Regions from separate parts of the Homo sapiens genome. Here region 1 is linked to region 2. Evidence: fine-mapped expression QTL. A gene starts in region 2. The other region holds a variant in brackets. All regions are shown on one strand. Distances are from middle to middle. Region 1 has its middle 30 kb from the start of ACSL5. Region 2 holds the start of ACSL5 (acyl-CoA synthetase long chain family member 5).

Region 1 (11,900 bases), 30 kb before region 2:
CCTGCCTCAGCCTCCTAAGTAGCTGGGACTACAGGCACCCACCACCAAGCCCAGCTAATTTTTTGTATTTTTAGTAGAGACGGGGTTTCACCGTGTTAGCCAGGATGGTCTCGATCTCCTGACCTCGTGATCCGCCCGCCTTGGCCTCCCGAAGTTCTGGGATTACAGGCGTGAGCCACCATGCCCGGCCAGGAGATTATTTAAAATGCAGAATCTCAGGTGCCACACCAGACCTACTGACCCAGAATCTGCATTTTAATAAGAGTCCCAGGTGATCCATCTGCACATTAAGGTTTGGGAAGCACTAGTATGGAGTCACAAGACCACCTTGGCTTTTGCTAGCAGAATGTTCTTCTATTCAGAATGCCCTGCCTGGCAGAAACGATGCAGAGAACAGAACAGAGATACACTAAGATCTACGGGCAGCCACCTGGCCTCAGAAATACCTGATAAAGCCCTACTGCGGCATAGAAGAGCTCTTCCCACTGCTGGCTCTTGACAAAAGAGCTGAGGTCCACAGAAATCATCACACTAGATGAGTTACTGTTGATGCCTTTTGACACAGGTGTGGCTCTCTGGGATGGCTGTAAAACAGGAAGTAATTTGGTCACTCTCAGCAGCAAGGCCAAGTACAAAAGGGAATGCATTTTATAGATGAGGAAGCTGAGTGCCAAGGTCAGACAGTTAATAATAAGAGAGCCAGGATTTGAACCCTGATCTTTCTGACCTGTTACATGCATCACTCTAGGACAGCATCATCCAATCATCCATGCCTTCTATGGCATCTGTACCACCATGGAGGTGTAGGTTAAGAGGGAAGGCTCTGAGGTCAGACTGCCCAGACTCAAGTTCTGGCTGTGGCACTTAATTAGATGTGTGGCCTGGGGTTAGAGCCATTTTCTTAAAGAACATCTAACCAAGTTGTCTCTGTTTAACACTCTCAGTGCCTCCCAACACCTAGAAAACACCTTCAAAGCATAGGAATCTTGTTTTCAAGGAGAATCTTATCTGGAACCCTAATGTAGAAATGAGGTAGATCGAAGCAGAGCTGCTTTGGTGGAAGATGGAAGAGTAAGTGTCTGAATCCCCGGGGACGTTTGGAGATGAGTTACTAATGAATCACAGTCACCTGCTCTTAGCATGTTGAAGCCTCCCTGACTTGGTACCAGCTAAGCTTCCCAGCCCTGACCATCCCACATCTCATTATATCCTGTGTACTTCACTCTTTTTCATCACTTGCAAACTCACTCTTCTCAAATGTCACCTCCTCTCCAAAGCCTTCCAGATGCTGAGACCTTCAGTCCCTCCATCTGCAAGGCTTCCATCTCACCGTGGAAACACCTCTCTGACACTTGCCTCCCTCTGGAGGCATCTCATTTGTGGGATATCCCCATACCTTGTATGATGCTTGGCCTGTAGTTAATGGTCAAGTCCCTGTCAAGCAAATGAACATTATTGTATTAGTCATCAATTGATTAAAGGAGTTAATGTGGTTTTGAAAATAACTAAATCCGGCCAGGAGCGATGGCTCATGCCTGTAATCCCAGCACTTTGGGAGGCTGAGGCGAGTGGATCACCTGAGGTCAGGAGTTCGAGACCAGCCTGACCAATATGGTGAAACCCCATCTCTACTAAAAAAAAAATAGAAAAACTTAGCTGGGCATGGTGGCAGGCACCTGTAATACCAGCTACTGGGGAGGCTGAGGCAGGAGAATCACTTGAACTCGGGAGGCAGAGATTGGAGTGAGCCGAGATCGTGCCATTGCACTCCAGCCTGGGCAACAAGAGCGAAATTCCATCTCAAAAAAATTACAAAACAAAAAATAAAATAACTAAATCCTCCCCAGGAGACAGCTTTAATATCTGAACACCATCTACAGTTCTCACCCACAGAGTAACAGAGCAAAGGGAACTTTAGAGACTGTCAATCATTTGTAAGTATTTAGAAACTGAGTCTTGGGGAGGTAAAATGACATTCTCAGATTCAGCAAGCAAGTGGGAGGCCTAGAACCAGAACTCAGGCCTGCAGACTCTTCATGAAGTGCTCACTGAATAAATTAGCCTCTTGCTCTTATAAGCTCCTAGATGAGGTCCCTTCCACACATCTCCAGCAGTGACCAGGAAATGGGACATCTGGGTCACATATGGCCTCACCTTGTTCTGGGGAAGAATGGTGATATCATCAAAATTGATTTGCCACCAGATGTCTTTGTTTTGCCTCTGCATCCTTAAAATCAGACCTATGATGGCAGCTCCCAAGACAGGAATGAGGATCATCAATGTCAGAAGCACAGCAGTCACGCCTGGAGGGTAGAGGCATATTACCCAGGCCTTGCCCAAGAGCAGTAGCAAGTACATCCCTGCCCAGCTGGGCCCAGCCGAGCAGGTTCCTCAAAGGCTGTCCTCTGGAAGGTCTGGGGTAGGACACACAAAGTCTACGCTGACTTGTCTCTTCCAGGAATTCTTCCCTGACTACCACCCTAGTTCCCACTGGAACTGCATTCACCTCCCGCTTTGTATAGAAAGTTCCACTGCAGAGAAATAATAATGATGACTTCTAACTCCACCAGCAGTGTTTACAAAACATTTACTGTGTGTTCTCCTTAGGGTGGTTCTCCAGGCATGATCCATCTAATTCCAGGGCTGGGCTCCTAACCACTGGGGCACACTCCCCTCCCCAGACTCTTTCAACCTCCCTAGAGGTGAAGTTCCTGAGACTCAAATCTCAGGAGCCAGTTTCCCTTAGAGCAGTGATTCTCCACAGGGGAAAAAGGTGATGTTGCCTCCTAGGGGATATTTGGCCATGTCTGGAGACATTTCTCATTCCGACTAGAGGGCTGCTATAGGCATCTGTGGGTAGAGGCCAGGGGTGCCGCTAAACATCTTATAATATACAGGGATGCATGGCTTGAAATGCCAGCCTCCCCATACACAAAAATTACCTGGCCCAAAATGTCAATAGTGCTGCCTGCCATACAGAGACCCTACTATAGAAAGTCTTTCCCTGCTACGTTCTCCAAACAGCCATACTTACCCGTAAAAGCAGACTGAGTTTCACAGAGCTCATTATAAAATCCACAGCCAGGTCTGTCTTCAGGAAGGGAGCCATGCGGCCAGGTCATATTGGAGAAATTCCCTGTGGGTCTTTAAAAAAAAAAATAAAGGTCAGCGTCAGCTCAGTTTGTTCTATTTGACTCTACCTCATGTACAGCAGAGACAACGGAAAAATGCATGTTATTTGCAAAACTCAAGCCTTGGTCTCTCAATTCAAACTTCTGTCCAGTTTGCCCAACTCTCCTAGGCTCTTCAAATCCAGCCTTCAGGTAATCTCATTCAAGGAAGGCAGTATCTTTTTGCTGTTGAAATAGCTTCCTCAATCTTTTGACTTAAACCATGTCTCTTTTGATTTAAAAGATGACATGCCAAGTCAATGTTGCTGGGACTTTCATCTGTGTTTGACGTAGACAAATCTTGTTATATAGCAGCTTGACATTTCACAGAACAAAACATCTCCTCCTATGTGGAGTGTGCCTGTTCTGACAATACTAAAGACCTAGTTTGCCATGGTTACTTTGTTTTCTGGCCCATTTTGGTCCATTAAAATTCCATAAGAGAAGGGGAGAAAAAAGCCTCAAGTTGCCTGGGTGTGGTGGCTTACACCTGTAATCCCAGCACTTTGGGAGGCTGAGGTGGGTGGATCACCTGAGGTGAGGAGTTCAAGATAAGCCTGGCCAACATGGTGAAACCCCGTCTCTACTAAAAATACAAAAATTAGCTGGGTGCAGTGGCATGCACCTGTAATACCAGCTACTCAGGAGGCTGAGGCAAGAGAATCACTTGAACTTGGGAGGCAGTGGTTGCAGTGAGCCCAGATTGTGCCACTGTACTCCAGCCTGGGCAACAGAGCAAGACTGTCTAAAAATTTAAAAAGCCTCAAGTTGAATCTGGATTGGAAGTAGTGGCAGTGGGGGTGAGTGGAAATTGAATTACATCTTAGGTTTCCTTTTAGTTTTCTCATTGATTTGTAGCTGAAAGAACAAAAACAAAGTTTTGTTTTGTTTTTTCCCCAGGATTCCTGGGTTCTGGTTGCTGGTGTCCAAATGTGTCTGGGAGTCAGGCTGTCTAGGTGAGCCATTTCGGGGCCTGTAAACCCATCCCTTCGGGGACGCTGTGCTCCACCACCCGCTCTGGGCCCAGGGCCTCTCCCCTAGACCATGGCCAATGGGACCACTGGTTGGAACACGAGAGGAGAACAGGGCCCTGGTGGAGGTGCAGTTCGTGGGTACTCTGTCCTACACTGAAATCTGAAACGGTCAAGCCATAACCTCAGTCAAGGGAATAAAATCACCTTAAAGGCCCAAAGTCTATCTTCATGAGTTCTAAGAGCACCAGGCTACTTGGGGGATTCTAGGGACTGGATCCCAAACTGGCCTTCCCAGGGCCCTCCTCTTCCTATGTCTCTTTCTGTAGCACAATCTACACTTGCAGAAATGTCCGGCCAGTATCTGATTACTTTGATAACTGTCATAATGAAGAAAAGAAAGTAAAAGGGGCCCATTTTCAGACTTCTGCAGGGCATAGACAGAGTAATCCATGTGCCTTTCTCCCTGGGCATCCACAAACACAGGGCCTGTGATTCCTAGAAAGACAGGAGATTGCACAAGGTCAGGAGAGGGACAGCAACATGTGGCTCAAAATGCCAGCCTGCCCCAACTCAAATCAACAGAACCCCCTTCCCCAACAGCCATTAAAAACCAGACACAGGGTTTCTGTCATTTCAGTGAATCTGAGACAGGGTCAATGGGGACCAGCAAAGGGAAGAAGACAGTTCAGAGATAGCATCCTGTTAGGGTTAAAGGGCCACACTGGGCAGGCAGATGTATTTTCTCAGGCCCACACTGGGGAAGCTCATCCAGCACTTAAAAATAAAAAAAAAAGTTTGTTTCCAGTTAATTTCACTTAAAACCTGAGATTTATGCTTCCCTCGAACAATCAGATGTGACAACATGTCAGCAGTCGTCTGGGGCCGAGGGACAGCTGCTTCCTCCAGTTCCTCCCATCTTCCTCCCCTGACCCCACCCACCCCACGCCTCCATGCTGCCAGGCCCTGGGGCACAAGTTTGCAATCTCTGTTCTCATGGCAGCCCCTTCCCTCCTGGTCTGGGTGCAGAGGCCTTGCAGGCCCTTTGCAGAGGCTTGGTGCAGAGGCTTTACAGGGCCTGATGTGCTGTTTGCTATTTCTTAGAACGTGATTAACTCCACTACTGAAGGAACGCATCTTGGAAGCACAGCTCCTTCACACCCCAAACTAGTACGTAGGTTCTGACAAAGGACTTATTGCTGATTTTGTCCCACAGGGGACAGAACACAAAATTACCACTGATAAAGCACCTAATAAGTGCTGGGCACTGCAGGTGGTGTTGACTTCCCATGTCTAATCCTAATTAACCCTTCAGAAGGGGCACCATCATCTGCTCCCAACAAGCAAAGCTTGGAGGCATGAACTCCTCGGGTCTTCCTGCCAGGGCCACGAAGAGGCACAGCTGGTACACAAACCCAGGCCTATCAGGCCCCAAGTGCCATGTTCTTTCCAGCATGCCACACTGCCTTTCTG[C/T]ATACACATCCGTGGGCATCCTGAATGTGGGTATTGAGCCTGAGGTTTGCAGGGGAAAGGCCAGAGCTCCTGCGACAACCAGGGCCACTTCTTTCAGTGTGCATTGCGTTCACTGAGCCAAAGCCAGTGGGGTTGGGGGATTCTGCTCCCTAACTCGACCTCCTAGAAGAGGCTTTCCTTCTGGAATGGTGCAAAAGCCCTTCGGCACTGGCCGATGGAGTGGTTGCCACCATGTGGCAGAAATGAACACAGGAAGCAGAGACAAATACTCCAGTTCTGCCAAGGCTAGTCCTGTAGCCCATAAGGGAACAGAAGCCAGTTTGGAAGGGGTGAGGAGGGCCCTTTGGTCATGAGTCCCTGAAAGGGGCCCACGGGTCCCAGAACCAAAGTGGGATGACTCAGGCTCTTAAAGGGCCTCACTGCTCTTCACAACCTCCCCTCATTCCAGCATGAAGAATTTCTAAAACCACAGGAAAGAGGAATTAATTGATCTGGCAGAGGGGATTAAACTGAGAGCAGAAAGAAGGATCCCCCCTTGTGACCTCTCCCCTTTTTAAGCAAATGCCTTAGGGTCTGAAAGGAAAGGAGAGAAGTTGGTGAATATTTCCACTTGCAAAAGGCATTAATAGGGTAAACGCGACCTGCTTCTATGAAAACTTCAAAGAGCAGGCCTTGGCTGCTGTCTTTAAATTTTCAGACAAATTTTAGGTAATAATTTATAAGCCAAAAGCCAAAAAGATAAGCCAAAGCAAGGATAAAAATAGTGACCATTTGGCTAGGCACAGTGGCTCACACCTATGATCCCAGCACTTTGAGACACCAAGGCGGGAGGATCTCTTGAGCCCAAGAGTATGAGACCAACCTGGGTGACAGAGCAAGACCCTATCTCAAAAGAAAAAAAAAAAGAACCTACTATTTAATGAGCACATACTATGTGCCAGGTGCATGTCATATTCTCATTACTCCTATGTTACAGGATAGCAAAGAACATGAGCCCTGGAGAAGGCAGACTTGATTTTGAATCCTGGCTCCACCATCTAATAACTTTGTGACCTTAGACAAGGTACATAACCTCTGTAACCTCAGTTTACTCACCTGAATAATACAGATAGAAATAGTACCTGCCTCATGGGCTGTGTGAGGATTCAATTAGGTAATACTCGGAAGCTCTTAGCACTTGGCCTAGTGTAAGGTAAGCCCTCCCTAAATGCTGGTTATTATTTCTGCATGTGGTAACAGGTGTTATCCCTATCTTACAACTGAGAAAACGAGAACAAGAAAGATCAAAGCAGTTGGTCAGCTGAATGTGATTTGAAAGCGGTTCACTCCCCAACCTATACTCATCCCCACCAGGAAAGCAAGAATGAGACTACAACCCATCTTCAGAAGTCTGTGGTGCCAGGGCCCCCATCACAGAGGCTGCAGATGGGAAGTGACCCCGGGAGACAGGTCTCACATTTCTGAATTTTATTCTTGATGGACTCAGTTTGAATGGAACTGCGGGGGAGAATTCCCAGGGGAAAGGGGATAAGGTGCCCAGCAGCCTCCTCTCCTGGTCTGGGCAGGCTCTGGCCAGAAGGATGAGCGAACTGTGGGAGCTGGGAGGTCTTAACCTCAACTACACTTACAGAAGGAAGACAGGAATCCCCATAAGAAAGATGAATTCTGGAGTTCAGTGTGAGGCAGGCCCTGAAAGAGGCCTTTAATTACATGCCCAAGATCTCAAAGCCCCCACCGACTGGAGCCGCAGGTCTGAGTTTAGAACACCCTCCAGCAGTAAGCCACCTACCCTGCACTGTGGTCTGACTGGAACCCTTCAGAGCGCTGACCAGCTGCCACCCATCCTGGAAGTCGCCTCCAGCCTTTACCACCTGCTTCACGGTCTCAGCATAGAGCAGGACGGCGTCGTGAAGGTAGGCAGAGTAAGGGCTCACCTTCAATAAGACAAGCAAAGCAGGGTCTCAAGAGGTTCTTGGCCTCTTGGGTCACCGTCCAGCACTAAATTAGGAGGAATCTCTGTTCCGTCCGCCCGGCAGTGGCACACAGCACTTTCTTCCCCCATCCCACAGAGCAGAGGGTCCAGCATACACCTGCGCCTGCACTATGAAACCCAGACGTCGCAGTCTTCATTTTCCTTCTGAATGCTGCGTTTCCCACTTAGATCTTCTGATCCTTCAGGGACGCTCTTCAGGCCACAGGTGGGAGGGAGCATGGTTTCAGGGAAAGAGGGTACATGCTGGAACTAGACCAGCTCAGCTCCCTACTGGCTATGAGTCCCGAGGTAAGTTCCACAGCCTCTCTGAATCTCAGCTCACTCGTTTATAAAATGGGGATAGGCTGGGCGCGTTGGCTCACGCCTGTAATCCCAGCACTTTGGGAGGCCAAGGCGGGCGGATCACGAGGTCAGGAGTTGGAGACCAGCCTGGCCAACATAGTGAAACCCCATCTTTACTAAAAATACAAAAATTAGCCCAGCGTGGTGGCAGGTGCCTGTAATCCCAGCTACTCAGGAGGCTGAGGCAGGAAAATCACTTGAACCCAGGAGGCAGAGGTTACTGTGAGCCGAGATTGCGCCACTGCACTCCAGCCTAGGTGACAGAGCGAGACTCCATCTCAAAAAAAAAAAAAGGAGGGGGATAAAACTGCTGTTGGGTTGAATGTGACAATAGTTAAATGAGGCATAATAGGTAAACTATCCATTGCAGTCCCTGACCCTTAGTAGGTCTTCAGGACGTGATGTCTTCTATTGGGCAGTCAAGGAAAATACAAGTGCCTACTAAGTGCCAGGCACTGTTCTCCCAACAGTACCAGATACAAAGCTGACACTTAGTAGACTGTTACTCAAATATTCTTTAATTGGTTATCTTGTCTTATATGTTGGGATCCACAATCGGCCCCCTCATTTCTAATCAAACTCCTTGTCATCAGTGGCCTGTGGTCACCTTAGGCTTCAGCTTGGCCCCACACTGGAAGTAGCTCCAGCTCTGGACAAAGGTCTCTCTTCAAAAACTTCTCTGTGAAAGCCAGATACTGCCTCCTCATCACACACATACTGGGATTACCACAGGCGGACCCTCTCTCTCCTGATCATCTCCTCCCTTTTCCAGCCCACCTGCTGGCCCTGACCTGTCCTAGCTCCACATCTCTGACCACTCCATCCTGGGTCTAGGTCCTGGCATCCTCCTGGGGAAGGAAATTGTCATGGTCTGGGTACCCATTAATATCTGTTCTGGGCCAGGCACAGTGGCTCACGCCTGTAATTCTAGCACTTTGGGAGGCCAAGTCAGAAGGATTGCTTGAGCCCAGGAGTTCAAGAGCTGCCTTGGCAACATAGGGAAATCGCGTCTCTACAAAAAAAATTTTTTTTTAATTATCAAGACATGATGGCATGTGTCTATATTTCCAGCTACTTAGGAGGCTGAAGTGGGAGGGTTGCTTGGGCCCAGGAAGTCGAGGATGTAGTGAGCATGACTGCACCACTGCACTCTAGCCTGGGTGACACAGCGAGACCTTCCCTCAAAAGAAGAAGATATATACTTTGCTTCTTCCATGGACAATGTTACTAAATACACACCACCACAGCCTGGGAGGTAGATGCCATTATCAGTCCCATTTCACAGAAGAAGAGACCGAGGTGTAGGGAGGTTAAGCAATTCACTACAAGGTCCTACAGTTAGCAAACAGCAGCAGTAGGATGGGGGCATAGGCCTCTGCTCCAAAGGCCTTTCACCCAGTAACCTCTGAGGTATAAATTCACAAGAGAGCATCAAACTGCTGTTTATTTTGGGCGTGGAAGATGGGGAAGTGCATGTGTGTGTGCACCTGCATGTGTGTAAGGGGGGTAGGGAGAGATGAGGAGAAATAAGAGGGAGAAATGCAAAGGCAAACACAAATATGATCAAAGAAGGGGAGGAGGGAGCCTGAGCTGGAAGACCCGGCATCACACCTGCTCCTCCCAGGAGATGGTGCTGCGGAAGGGCGACCTCCTCGGTGTTTGGTAGACTTGTTTCCAAAAGCCTTCGTCTCCACGGCCTTTTCTGTAGGAGCTGAGGGCAATGAGAAGCAGTGACCCATACACCTTTTGGAGGTGCATCATTTTCTGATTTGTCAGTACTTCCTTCCAAAAACGGTCCTAAAAAGTAATAAAATAAATGTTGTTATTCGGTAGGAAATGCCTTGGCAAGGGCACTGCGTGTAACACAATGTTTAATTTGAACCACTACATTCTAATTCCTGGAAACACAGTGATTCCAGAAGGCCTGCAATACAAGGTCCACATTCTCTAGCTGGCATATAAGCAGTGGAAGGAAAGCCACAAATAAAAAGAAAAAATGTTCCTGGTGCATACAGCTGCTAAGATGCAGAAAGCTTACCTACTAACAATGATTGCAAAAACTTAAAAAGCTTAAGACTATAGATTCTTGCTTTTTTTAAATTTTTTTTGCTTGTGGCATTATCATTATAATCTACGTTACTATTATGAACAGTATATACCCACTCATTATACATATATGTATGTATATATACATATATATGACATCACACTCACACATATATATATATATATGATGATATCATACCATAATGCAGCTTGATTTTTTTCCACCTAAACCTATACTGGGAATAGTTTCATAAAATAGATTTATGCTATTCTTTCATGAAGCAGCATGAATTCAATTGCATAGACATTGGTGTATTCTTAGTTCTACCTTCTTTCTGCCATTACACACCAGTTGGAATGGATCATCAATGTGTGGGAGAAAGCAACAGGGGAGTTGAAAAGTTTCCCTGCCAAAACAATGTGCCTGAAGGCAGAGATGAGAGGAAAAGTGAAGAGAAAGGGAGGCGGTCACAATGGATATCTAGGGTAAGAGAGTGTTCTGGAAAGTCTGGCATGCCTTTAGGATTCCAGCTCCCTACCCAAAGAAATCTGAGATGCTTTTGTGGATCTGAAAGACTTCATGATAAAGAAAGAAAAATCTGGGACATTACTATATATCTCCCTTTATTTTCTTCTGTCCTATTTCAGCTTCTTGTGATTTTTTTAAAAAGCTTATTTTAGAAAGATAAAACTGCTAGAAAAATAATGCACCGTGTCCATAGGAAAAGGCAAGTAGCTTTTGTAGATGCCTGTTGTGTAAGATGCTTACAAGCACAGACACAATAGCCCCCTGTGAGGCAGATACTACGTGCATTATTTCCATGCATCAGTGCACTTGATGAGAGGTAGAAAAGGAGCCCAGGCCACCTGGGTTTGAATGCTAGCTCTCCCTCATACTAGTTGGATGGCCTTGGGCAAGTTTTGGCACCTCTCTGAACCTCAGTTTCCTCTTCTGTAAAACGAGGATGATAAAAGTGAGGTGACAACGTGCTAGCAGCCCTCGCTCGCTCTTGGCGCCTCCTTGGCCTCGGCGTCCACTCTGGCGGTGCTTCAGGAGCCCTTCAGCCCGCCGCTGCACTGTGGGAGCCCCTTTCTGGGTTGCCCGAGGCCGGAACCAGCTCCCTCTGCTTGCAGGGAGGTGTGGAGGGAGAATCGCGGGCGGGAACCGGGGCTGGGTGCCGCTCGCTGGACAGCGTGAGTTCCGGGTGGGGGTGGGCTCCGCACTCGGAGCTCCGGCCAGCGCCGCCAGCCCCGGGCAGTGAGGGGCTCAGCACCTGGGCCAGCGGCTGCGGAGGGTTCACCGGGTGCCACAGCACTGCCGGCCCGTCCGCGCCACACTCGAATTCTCACCGCGCCTCAGCTGCCTCCCCACGCGGCAGGGCTTAGGACCTGCAGCTGCCATGCCTCCCCTCCGCCCCCCCCGCCACCAGTGGGCTTCCGCGCAGCCCCAGCGTCCCCAAAGGGCCCCGCCCATCGACCGCCCAAGGGCTGAGAAGGGTGGGTGCGTGGCTTGGGACTGGCAGGCAGCTCCGCAGGCGGCATCCACTAGGCGAAGGCAGCAGGGTTCCTGAGTTGGGTCGGCACTTGGAAAACTTTTATGTCTAGCTAAAGGATTGTAAACACACCAATCAGCACTCTGTCTAGCTCAAGGTGTGTAAACGCACCAATCAGCACCCTGTCAAAATGGACCAATCAGCTCTCTGTTAAGTGGACCAATCAGCAGGATGTGGGTGGGGTCAGATAAGGGAATAAAAAGCTGCGTGGGCTAACAGCGATAACCCTTTTGGGTTCTTTTTGGAAAGTTTGTTGTCTTGCTTTTTGGGCTAAAGTTTTGCTGCTGCTTGCTCTAGCTCTATGTTACCTTTGTGAGCTATAACATGGTGCGAAAGTCTGCAGCTTTACTCC
Region 2 (11,900 bases):
GCCTATAATCCTAGCATTTTGGGAGGCTGCAGTGGGTGGATGACTTCAGCCCAAGAGTAAGAGGCTAGCCTGGGCAATATGGCAAAACCCATCTCTAGTAAACATTTTTAAATTAGGTATGGCGGTACATGCCTGTAGTCCCAGCTACTCTGGAGGCTGAGGTGGGAGGATAACCTGAGCCCAGAAGGTGGAAGTTGCAGTGAGCCGAGATTGCACCACTGCACTTAGCCTGGGTGACAGAGGAAGACCCTATGTCAAAAAAAGAAAAATCCTGTGTTTTGAAGAATCCAGGCCTCTGTGGCTCAGCAAACGTAGGTGGCTGGAGAGAGGACGGACCGTTACCTAAATGGTGTGGTGGCACTGACCTGTAGTCCCAGTGCTCAGGAGCCTAAGGTGGGAGGATTACCTGAGCCCAAGAAGTCAAGGCTGCAGTGAGCCATGATGTTGCTACTGCCTGAGTGACAGGAGTGAGACCCTGTCTTAAAAAAAAAAAAAAAAAAAAAAAACGGCCAGGCACAGTGGCTCACACCTGTAATCCTGGCACTTTGGAAGGCCGAGGCAGGCAGATCACTTGAGGTAAGGAGTTCAAGACTAGCCTGGCCAACATGGTGAAACCCCATCTCTACTAAAATACAAAAATCAACCAGGTGTGGTGGCACACATCTGTAGTCCTGGCTACTCCGGAGATTGAGGCAAGAGAATGTCTTGAACCCCAGGAGGCAGAGGTTGCAGTGAGCCAAGACAGACCTGCTGCACTCCAGCCTGGGCAACAGAGTGAGACTCCGTCTCAAAAAAAAAAAAAAAAAAAGTTAATGCACATGAGAATCTGACCTAAGAAGACTTCTATGTTAATATGCTAGTCTCTCCTCCACACAAGAGTCAACAGGAAGTGGTATTAGCTTCTGATTTTGGTATTGGTCACCTGACCAAATACAGTAAGTGAGAGGTGACAGCGTGCTGGCAGCCCTCACAGCCCTTGCTTGCTCTTGGCGCCTCCTCTGCCTTGGCTCCCACTTTGGCGGCACTTGAGGAGCCCTTCAGCCCGTGCTGCACTGTGGGAGCCCCTGCCTGGGCTGGCTGAGGCTGGAGCCGGCTCCCTCAGCTTGCGGGGAGGTGTGGAGGGAGAGGCGCGGGCAGGAACCGGGGCTGTACGCGGGGCTTGTGGGCCAGCGAGAGTTCCGGGTGGGCGTGGGCTCGGCAGGCCCCGCACTCAGACCAGCAGGCCTGCCCCGCTGGCCCCCGGCAGTGAGAGGCTTAGCACCTGGGCCAGCAGCTGCTGTGCTTGACTTCTCGCTGGGCCTTAGCTGCTGCCTCCCTGTGGGGCAGGGTTCGGGACCTGCAGCCTGCCATGCTTGAGCCTTCCCCCACCCAACCCCACCAGCCATGGGCTCCTGCACAGCCAGAGCCTCCCCGACGAGCACCGCCCCCTGCTCCACGTTGCCCCTTCCCATCGACCTTCCAAGTGAGAGGTGACAGCATGCTGGCAGCCCTCACAGCCCTCGCTCGCTCTGGGCACCTCCTCTGCCTGGGCTCCCACTTTGGCAGCACTTGAGGGGCCCTTCAGCCCACTGCTGCACTGTGGGAACCCCTTCCTGGGCTGGCTGAGGCCTGAGCCCGCTCCCTCAGCTTGTGGGGAGGTGTGGAGGGAGAGGCGTGGGCGGAACCGGGGCTGCGCATGGTGCTTGCGGGCCAGCCCGAGTTCCGGGTGGGTGTGGGCTCCGCGGGCCCTGCACTCAGAGCGGCCGGCTGGCCCTGCCGGCCCCAGGCAATGAGGGGCTTAGCACCCCGGCCAGCGGCTGCAGAGGGTGTGCTGGGTCCCCCAGCAGTGCCGGCCCACCAGTGCCGGCCCACCAGTGCTGTGCTGGATTTTTTGCCAGGCCTTAGCTGCCTCCCGGCGGGGCAGGGCTCAGGACCTGCAGCCCGCCATGCCTGAACCTCCCCCACCCTCCGTGGGCTCCTGTGTGGCCGGAGCCTCCCCGACAAGCACCGGCCCCTGCTCCACTGCGCCCAGTCCCATCAACCACCCCAAGGGCTGAGGAGTGCCGGCTCATGGCGCGGGACTGGCAGGCAGCTTCACCTGTGACCCAGTGCTGGATCCACTGGGTGAAGCCAGCTGGGCTCCTGACTGCTGGGGACTTGGAGAACCTTTATGTCTAGCTAAGGGATTGTAAATACACCAATCGGCACGGTGTATCTAGCTCAAGGTTTGTAAACACGCCAATCAGCACCCTGTGTCTAGCTCAGGGTTTGTGAATGCACCAATGGACACTCTGTATCTAGCTACTCTAGTGGGTACTTGGAGAACCTTTGTGTCCACACTCTGTATCTAGCTAATCTAGTGGGGACGTGGAGAACCTTTGTGTCTAGCTCAGGGATTGTAAACACACCAATCAGCACCCTGTTAAAACAGACCACTCAGCTCTCTGTAAAATGGACCAATCAGCAGGATGTGGGTGGGGCCAGATAAGGAAATAAAAGCAGGCTGCCCCAGCCAGCAGTGGCAACCTGCTGGGGTTCCCTTCCATGCTGTGGAAGCTTTGTTCTTTCGCTCTTTGCAATAAATCTTGCTACTGCTCACTCTTTGGGTCTACACTGCCTTTATGAGCTGTAACACTCACCACGAAGGTCTGCAGCTTCACTCCTGAAGCCAACAAGACCACGAACCCACCGGGAGGAACAAACAACTCCAGACGCCCCACCTTAAGGGCTGTAACACTCACCGCGAAGGTCCACAGCTTCACTCCTGAGCCAGTGAGATCACGAACCCACCAGAAGGAAGAAACTCCAAACACATCCGAACATCAGAAGGAACAAACTCCGGACACGCTGCCTTTAAGAACTGTAACACTCACCGCCAGGGTGTGCAGCTTCATTCTTGAAGTCAGTGAGACCAAGAACCCACCAATTCCAGACACACAAAGGCTGAGGAGTGTGGGCACACGGTGTGGGACTGGCAGCCAGCTCCACCTGTGGCCACGGTGCGGGATCGACTGGGTGAAGCCAGCTGGCCTCCTGAGTCTGGTGGGGACTTGGAGAACCTTTATGTCTAGCTAAGGGATTATAAATACACCAATCGGCACTCAGTATTTGGCTCAAGGTTTGGAAACACACCAATCAGCACCCTGTGTCTAGCTCAGGGTTTGTGAATGCACCAATGGACACTCTGTATCTAGCTACTCTGGTGGGGACTTGGAGAACCTTTATGTCTAGCTAAGGGATTGTAAATACACCAATGGGCACTCTGTATCTAGCTCAAGGTTTGTAAACACACCAATCAGCCCCCCGTGTCTAGCTCAGGGTTTGTGAATGCACCAATTGACACTCTGTATCTAGCTACTCTGGTAGGGACTTGGGTAACCTTTATGTCTAGCTAAGGGATTGTAAATACACCAATTGGCACTCTGTGTCTAGCTCAAGGTTTGTAAACCATTCAGCACCCTGGTCTAGCTCAGGGTTTGTGAATGCACCAATCGACACTCTGGATCTAGCTAATCTAGTGGGGACATGGAAAACTTTTGTGTCAACACTCTGTATCTAGCTAATCTAGTGGGGACATGGCGAACTTTTGTGTCTAGCTCAGGGATTGTAAACACACCAATCAGCACCCTGTCAAAACGGACCAATCAGCTCTCTGTAAAACAGACCAATCGGCTCTCTGTAAAATGGACCAATCAGTAGGATGTGGGTGGGGCCAGATAAAAGAATAAAAGCAGGCTGTCCGAGCCCGGAGTGGCAACCACCTGGGGTTCTTTTCACACTGTGGAAGGTTTGTTCTTTAGCTCTTTGCAATAAATCTTGCTACTGCTCACTCTTTGGGTCTACGCTGCTTTTATGAGCTGTAATGCTCACTGCAAAGGTCTGTAGCTTTACTCCTGAGCCAGCAAGACCACAAACCCACCAGAAGGAAGAAACTCTGAACACATCTGAACATCAGAAGGAACAAACTCTAGACACACCGCCTTTAAGAACTGTAACACTCACTGCGAGGGTCCGCGGCTTCATTCTGGTAGCTAAACATACACAGATCAATGGGGCAGCATAGGGGCCAAGGCACTGCAGGGGTTCTCATGACTCTGAGTCAGGTGCTGTCTTGACCGACTGGTTGTGTGATTCCAGAAGCCTTCTTTCACCTGAAAAGGCCTCACTGGCCTCACCTATACAGTAAGTTTGCACATCATCTCCAGGGTTTCTTTCATTTCTACCCACTGTTTTTGTTTAGTAATGATGCCTTGCAGTCCTAATGATCTTGGAATCAAGAATGGTGACTAGAGAACTTCAAAGTGGAAAGAGAGGCTGGGCATGGTGGCTCATGCCTATAATCCCAGCACTTCGGGAGGCCGAGGCAGGCAGATCACTTGAAGTCAGGAGTTCGAGACCAGCCTGGCCAACATGGTGAAACCCTGTCTCTGCTAAAAATACAAAAAAAAAAAAAAAAATTAGCCAGGCATTGTGGTGCATGCCTGTAATCCCAGCCACTCCAGAGGCTGAGGCAGGAGAATTGCTTGAACTCAGGAAGTGGAGGTTGCGGTGAGACTCCGTCTCAAAAAAAAAAAAAAAAAAAAAAAAGGAGAGAGTAGGATGGCTGAGCCATGACGCAGTAGCAATGCTTCTTTTTTTTTTTTTTTTTTTGAGACAGAGTCTCGCTGTGTCGCCCAGGCTGGAGTGCAGTGGCGCGATCTTGGCTCACTGCAAGCTCCACCTCCCGGGTTCACACCATTCTCCTGCCTCAGCCTCCCAAGTAGCTGGGACTACAGGGGCCCACCACCACGCCCGGCTAATTTTTTGTGTATTCAGTAGAGACGGGGTTTCACCGTGTTAGCCAGGAAGCAATGCTTCCTATTCTAGCGCCTTGCTAAACTATGTGTGCTGCAGACTGTGTTCGTGATTCCGAATCCTAAAAACAACCGTCCTAGGCTTGTCTCTCAGCCTAGACTCTAGACTGATTTGGCTCATTTGGTTGTCTTGGAGACGTTCTAATTCTGAAGGGGGCAGTGGTCCCTTCTAGAAGATAGCTGGTCTGCAAATGCACACCTCTGCTTAGTCTGAATCCTAAAGTTATAGCTTGAGCCAATTAAAGTGGCTTCTCATTTTTCTCTCACTCTGATCTCAAGGAGCCCTTTTTCTTCTAGTAATCTAGACCTTCCTCTTCCTATCACAGTCTCAAGGATTGTGCCCCCAAAGCAGATGCAAAGCCCTGTCTACCCCTTCTCCTTCCCCTGAGGTAGAGCTTTATCGAAGGTTTCTCTTGGTAAACGTTAGCTTTCTGAACTAAGGGCCGTCTTTTTTTTTTTTCCCGCTTAAGCCCATTGCATAACAATCTCTTGTTTTAATCTTTTGCCCAACACTGCTTTTCTTACTGTCAGAGGTTACTACAAGTGTTTGAACAGGTAACTTCTACCTTTGAACTTCTGTTGTGACAGATTCAAAGGTTCCAGGGGAGTGTGTTGGCCACTCTCAGGACAGTACACAGTAGCTTCGGGTGTGTCCCAGTCAGTCCTAGGAGCTGTGGAAAGAGTAGAAGTGCCTGAATGTGGTGCTGAATCAATACAGCCAGCTGTGAGGGGAGCACTTCCTGGACCCAGGAAGGGAGAGTCTTCTTCCAAGGTAAGCTGCAATGATACTACCTGCACTATATTGAATATATCTGTGAGATAGTAGGGAGGGGATTGGTGTGGGGAAAGAAAGTGGGATTTGTTATGCTCAACCTAAGGCTCTTTAATAACATGAAATTACATTTAGTTGAATAGTAATCTCAGCTGACTTGTGTGGGAGGCAAAGAAAAAAATCAGTTGGAAAAGGGGTGGAGATATATGAGCTATCCAAATGCTAGCAGGGGATGGAATTGGAAGGGAACACTGATTTTGGTAAGTGTACTAAAGCACACCAAGCCAGAATGTGGGTCTCCTTCATCTTCCATTAAGAAATTTCTGTCTCAGTGTAGTTAGAAGGATCGTGCGTCAGCTGCTGAGGGCAGAGAGTCCCATTTGGCAGACAGAGAGGAAGGGAATCAGCAGATATTCGATTAGGTGCTGGGGACTGTTCTGGGTAGATTATGTATGTTACTTCATTGGTGTATCTCATCCTATAAAGCAGGTGGTATCCTTCCCATTTCACAGAGGCATAGTGCGTCTCCAGGCTGTTAAACAGCATGGCCTAAGCTACATAGCTCCAAGGTGGTGTGGCTAGAATTTGAGACTTGATTGGTCAGTTTCCACAGCCTGCCCAATAATGCAGAATTGTTGTGGGTTGCCAAAGCTTTCAGTTACCCCCTGAAATCCTGAGGGTGTCACTCATGTGCACAGAGGATTGATAGGAATACAACTCTGATGGGCCTTTAGAATGACTCAACCTTCCTGAACTTGAGCATTTTTACTGGAGGAGGTCAATAAAAAAAAAAGAAATAAAACCTCATCTTCCCCTGGCCCTGAGCCCTTTGGTGAAGGAAGACAGCACCCGGTGAAGGGCTCAGAGGTATTAGTGTGGCTGAGATTCGACACCCACTCTGCCATCCTCTGCTCTCCTCTAGAGGAAGTTGCCTCTTGGGGAGCTGAGTTCCTGAAACTAAGCAAATGACAAGTGCTCCTCCAGCCGTGAGATGAGCCAGAGGATGGAATGCCACAGGCCCCACTTCGTCTCCCAGCCCTTCATCTTTCTTCCATGTCCAAAGGCGGCTCCCCAGAGGCCAAGGGCTCAGCTCTTGTGTTCTCTGAGACTGTGGCACAGCTCACCCTGGCTTCCTTAGTAGGAAGCTTTTAAGAACTGCTCTGTAGAAAGAACAAACCCTAATCTAGCTCCAGCAAAGAGCCAGGATCATGCTGAACTTCCTGTGAGCCTTCGTGGGGGATCGAGGCTGGAGAAAGTGCTGCTTCATTCTGAGGTATCTGTGAGGTGGGGAAGGGGCAGGAAAATTTGTCATTTCGGCTTCCTAATCTGAGAATGGTAGCTCCAGGGCCCCCCTGTAGCCACAGCCTTAGGCGGATCAAAAATGAGACTAATACAGGTCCTGGTAATACTGGGGGTGACCAAGGCGAAAGAATCGATTTTTAAGTTAAGTTTTGAGGTGTGACTGTATCAGAGGGAAAGAAACCATGCCAATTGAACGACTCACAGCCCTGTCGTTCCTGACTTGCTTATTTTCTTGGCTTTGCCAGAACTTCTTCAGAGACCAAGGCAGGCAGCTCTGGCGACTGGAGAGAGGCGGGGTAGAAGGTGTTTGTGTGGGTCTGAGGGCTGAGGTACCCTCTAGCCAGACTTTCCTGTCCTCCGAATCCAGCAGGGAACAGCGTCACCTCTGCCTCTGTGAGGCTTCTGATCTGAGGGGGCACCTCAAGTCATTTTAGTTTGTTTGTTTTCATCTTAGTTGAAAGATGATAGGCCACAGGAGGGCAGGGTCAACTGTGTTGAGGCAAGCTGGCTTTTGTGTCGGCCCTTAGGGGCTGAGGTGAAAGGCTTTGACACGGAGCCAGGGTAGCTTTGGCAGCTTCTCCCCTCCTGGTCAGAACACTTCCACTTTCAGTTGTGAAAAAAAAAATTAAAACCAGGAAGTGAAGTCCCCGAGCACGTTAGAAAGCCTGACATGGCCTGACTCGGGACAGCTCAGAGCAGGGCAGAACTGGGGACACTCTGGGCCGGCCTTCTGCCTGCATGGACGCTCTGAAGCCACCCTGTCTCTGGAGGAACCACGAGCGAGGGAAGAAGGACAGGGACTCGTGTGGCAGGAAGAACTCAGAGCCGGGAAGCCCCCATTCACTAGAAGCACTGAGAGATGCGGCCCCCTCGCAGGGTAAGGGGACCATCGAGGGGGTGTTATTCAGCAAGGGGGTCTTGTGAGGGTGTGACAGAGGCCAAGGGGGCATCCTGACCCCCGACTTTCTTTAAGCGACTTAGAATCAAGGGCCGGCTGAGTTCCACGGGCACATCATGCTGTCTCCCTCCTGGTCTCGGTCATGCCTTCAGACCCTGTGTCAGGAGGAGCAACGGGAAGGAAGGATGTGGGGCATGCATGGGGCTCACTTTCCTTCTCTCGACTCTCTTGGGGAAGGTGAACCAAAACAGAGACCTCTTTTTGTGGGTCTGAGCATCCAGCATAGCTCCCCTGAGGTGGGCTGGGGGTTTGCCCTCAATTTTATGTTGGGTAAGACTGATGAATGAGACCAATGGGGTGGGAGAGACAGATGAATGGAGCTGAGTGTATTTTAGGAAGTAAGGCCACAGGTTAAGTCTCAGGTGCTGCTTAATTCCTAAGTACTTCCTTCCCAATGCCCACTCCCTGAGGGTCCTAAGGTGAATCTCAAAGACCCTCAGGGAGTAAGCACTGGAAAGGGACTCTACCACTGGAGACCCTCAGGGAATAAGCACTGGAAAGGGACTCTACCACCGGAGACCCTCAGGGAATAAGCACTGGAAAGGGACTCTACCACCGGAGACCCTCAGGGAATAAGCACTGGAAAGGGACTCTACCACCGGGGCTTGGTACCTTCTGAGATATCAGCCTTTTTTTGGTGGTCTGAAAGGTAGAATTGAATCTATAGCTCCAATGTGTAGGTGATTAGTATTCTATATCAGAGGCAGAGTCTTAAAAAATAAAGTTAAGGCCGGGCGCAGTGACTCACACCTGTAATCCCAGAACTCTGGGAGTCTGAGGTGGGTGGATCACCTGAAGTCAGGAGTTAGAAACCAGCCTGGCCAACATGGCGAAACCCCATCTCTACTGAAAATACAAAAATTAGCTTGGCGTGGTGGCGTACGCCTGTAATCCCAGCAACTCAGGAGGCAGGACAATTGCTTGAACCTAGGAGGCGGAGGTTGCAGTGAGCCGAGATGGCACCACTGCACTCCAGTTTGGATGACAGAGCAAGACTCTGGCTCAAAAACAACACACAAACAAACAAATAAAAAAACATTGAAAACTGACTTAGTTTTCTTTTAAAAAAGGAGTAATTGGTTTTGTTTATTTCTCCCTTCATATTCTGATATGGAGTCACTCTGTGGTAGTCCCCTCCGATTGATCAGTATTCAAGGTTAAACACAGAACATGTCTTGAAAGAGGCATGGTGTAAAATTTTATAGCCATCTTTTGTGTATTTGGCATAATAAAAGGAACAAAAACCTAAATAAAACAAGAAGTGTAAGTGCAAATGCTTATAGGACAGGCAAGTAATATAGAGAAGTAAAGTAGATGGTGTGTAATAAGATGCTAATGGTGGAAACTTTAGCAAAATTCAGAGCAGGCATACCCCAGATAAATGCATTCAAATTTAATTATTAAAAAAGAGAAAACACTTTTTAATCCAGACCAAACAGAATATTTCAGCCTAGCCTGACCTAAAATAGTCTCTCCCAGGCTATATTGTAATTTTTTGAGGGCAAAGACACCAACAACAACATCAGCGTGTCATTGCATACCTAACCATCCACCTATAGTGAGACCACAGATACTACATGGAGGCTGGAGATGGAGGAAGGAGAGAGAAATGAATGGAGAGAGGGAAGATGAAGCCAGGGAAGTACCAGTACACAGTAGGTACTCTTATATTTAATCAAGACAATCTTCTTCTTCTTGTTTTTTTTTTTTTTTTTTTTTTTTTTTTTTTGGAGGAGCCTCACTCTGTCACCTAGACTCCCAGGCTTGAGTGCAGTGGCAACATCTTGGCTCACTGCAACCTCTGCCTCCCCAGTTCAAGCAATTCTCCTGCCTCAGCCTCCTGAGTAGCTGGGATTACAGGCATGCACCACCATGCCCAAATAATTTTTGTACTTTTAGTAGAGACAGGGTTTCACCATATTGGCCAGGCTGGTCTCAAACTCCTGACCTCAAGTTATCTGCCTGCCTAGGCCTCCCAAAGTGCTGGGATTACAGGTGTGAGCCACTGCACCTGGCCTATAGGATTTGCCAGCTTCTTAGAAACCAGGAATACAGTGTCTGCTCCTGTCTGTCTCTCATATGCCTCCTCAGCAGATGAGCAGACCCTCAGCTGGAGTGCAGTCAGAGGTGACTCTTGTGCCTGGCAGCATCAAGCAAGGGTGACGTAACCCCAGCAGCCATGAGTCCAGCCATCACTGCTTATCACATTCTGCTGGAAATGCATCTGGGTCTATTTCTCCCCTCTATGTCTGTACATCCTGAGGTCGGAAAGGGACTCTCTCACCAACTTGTCCTCCCTGGCGCAGGGCCTGACACTTCCTAGGTTCTCAACTCATTGTTTGAATAAATACATGAGATCTGGAGTTTGGAAGGTCAGACAGCCCGTGCAATGCTGTGGTCAGGCCACACTATTAGCCTTCTTTGGGGAAGCTGGTGGATCTCCCAGTCTTCATGGGCCATTCTATTCTAAGAGTTGTGAGGTTGCGAGTGGCTCAAGTTGAGGATTTGAGGTCTGGGGTAAAGCTAGGTCAGAGACAGGCCATGGTTCCCTACAACTAGAAGTGCTCTGTTTAAATAGAAATGAGGGCTTGTTGGCCGGGCGCAGTGGCTCATGCCAGTAATCCCAACACTTTGGGAGGCCGAGGCAGGCAGATCACTTGAAATCAGGAGTTTGAGACCAGCCTGGCCAACATGGTGAAACCCCATCTCTGCTAAAAATACAAAAGCTAGCTGGGCGTGGTGGCAGCTGCCTGTAATCCCAGCTACTCGGGAGGCTGAGGCAGGAGAATCGCTTGAACCCAGGAGGCGGAGGTTGCAGTGAGCTGAGATCTCGCCACTGCACTCCAGCCTGGGTGACAAGAGTGAAACTCCATCTCAAAAAAAAGAAAAAAAAAAAAAAGAGATGAGGGCTTGTTAAAACCTTTGCACAGAAGTGGAGGGGCAGTAATCGTTCAAGACCGTGGTCATCTCTTTTCTTTTGGGACATCTCGTAATAGAACATCTGATATTGGCAAGGATGTGAAAACTGAGGAAAAGGGAAGGAAAGGGGAGCTAGATTTGATTGAGGACTTCCCATGTGCCTGACAGCATACCAACTGTTCTACACACAGCATCTCCTTTAAGTAGCGATTTTCACCTGCTCCTTCTGTGTACAGTGGCGGGGAACTGATGCTCAGTGACTCTAAGTAACTGTCCCCAGGGCTACACATGTAGTAAGTGAGGAGCTGTTGCTCTGGTACCTGGAAGGGCACGACCTTGAAAGTTTGCCCCTGGCAATGACACCGTTGACAAGAAAGCTTGTTGCCTGCACTTTGAAACTGTTGACCCTTGACCACTGGTTGGGACAGGCAGTGCAAGGGCTGATTCTGCAGAAAACTAAGGCAAGAAGTCTGCTTTCCCAACCTCTTGCCTCACCCTGGCACAGGTGACAGGGTCCTAGCACTTTGTCCGGCCTATCTTTTTACAGACCCCCTTATCAGATCCAGTGGACTTCTGACACTGCTTCTTCTTACCCCAGTTCTGTCATAATATACTTGGTCAGCAGCAGGCCTGGGATGCCCTTTGGGGGTGTTACTGACACAAGTTGTCCCGGGGTCGGGATTTGGACTGTGACTCACTTGAAGCCCAGTGGTGGATCAAGGTTGACTCTATCGACCTGAGCTCCTGTGGGATTTGTCACTTCTGGGGTCACATCCTGTGGGTGACTCAACTATCCTATGCTATCTTAATGGACTGACTTAAGAGGCTCTTGGTATTTGACTTAACATGAGATCTCCTGATAAATGCTACTCAGCTCAACTGGCCAATGTCTGGCCCCACCCAGGCTCTCTGGAGTATGTGAAGGCAATGGCTCCAGAGGTGCAGTGTCTACACTGGGCCCCACACACCATCTCATTCATCCTTGGAGACTTTTTCTTCCCCCTGCCACCCCCCGCCCCCCAACCTTTTAACTAAAGATGGACCCTCCACCTCCAGCAGAAATACCTCTTCACCATTTCCCTCCCCTAAATGTCCCACTTGTCCCACTTTAGTGCCT

What was found.
Region 1: its variant is fine-mapped to the expression of ACSL5 in whole blood (TOPMed, PIP above 0.99).

What each region holds. Positions count from the first base shown.
Region 1 is chr10:112,338,603-112,350,502 of GRCh38, forward strand. It overlaps the pseudogene GUCY2GP. Among named protein-coding and RNA genes, the nearest start is that of ACSL5, 30 kb to the right of the region's middle. The variant C/T (reference allele first, on the strand shown) is at 5,615.
Region 2 is chr10:112,368,666-112,380,565 of GRCh38, forward strand. It overlaps ACSL5 (acyl-CoA synthetase long chain family member 5), which reads left to right and starts at 5,451. Exons shown (of 21, transcript NM_203379.2): 1 at 5,451-5,604. RefSeq lists enhancers at 7,152-7,301, 7,183-7,683, 7,442-7,661, 7,684-8,184.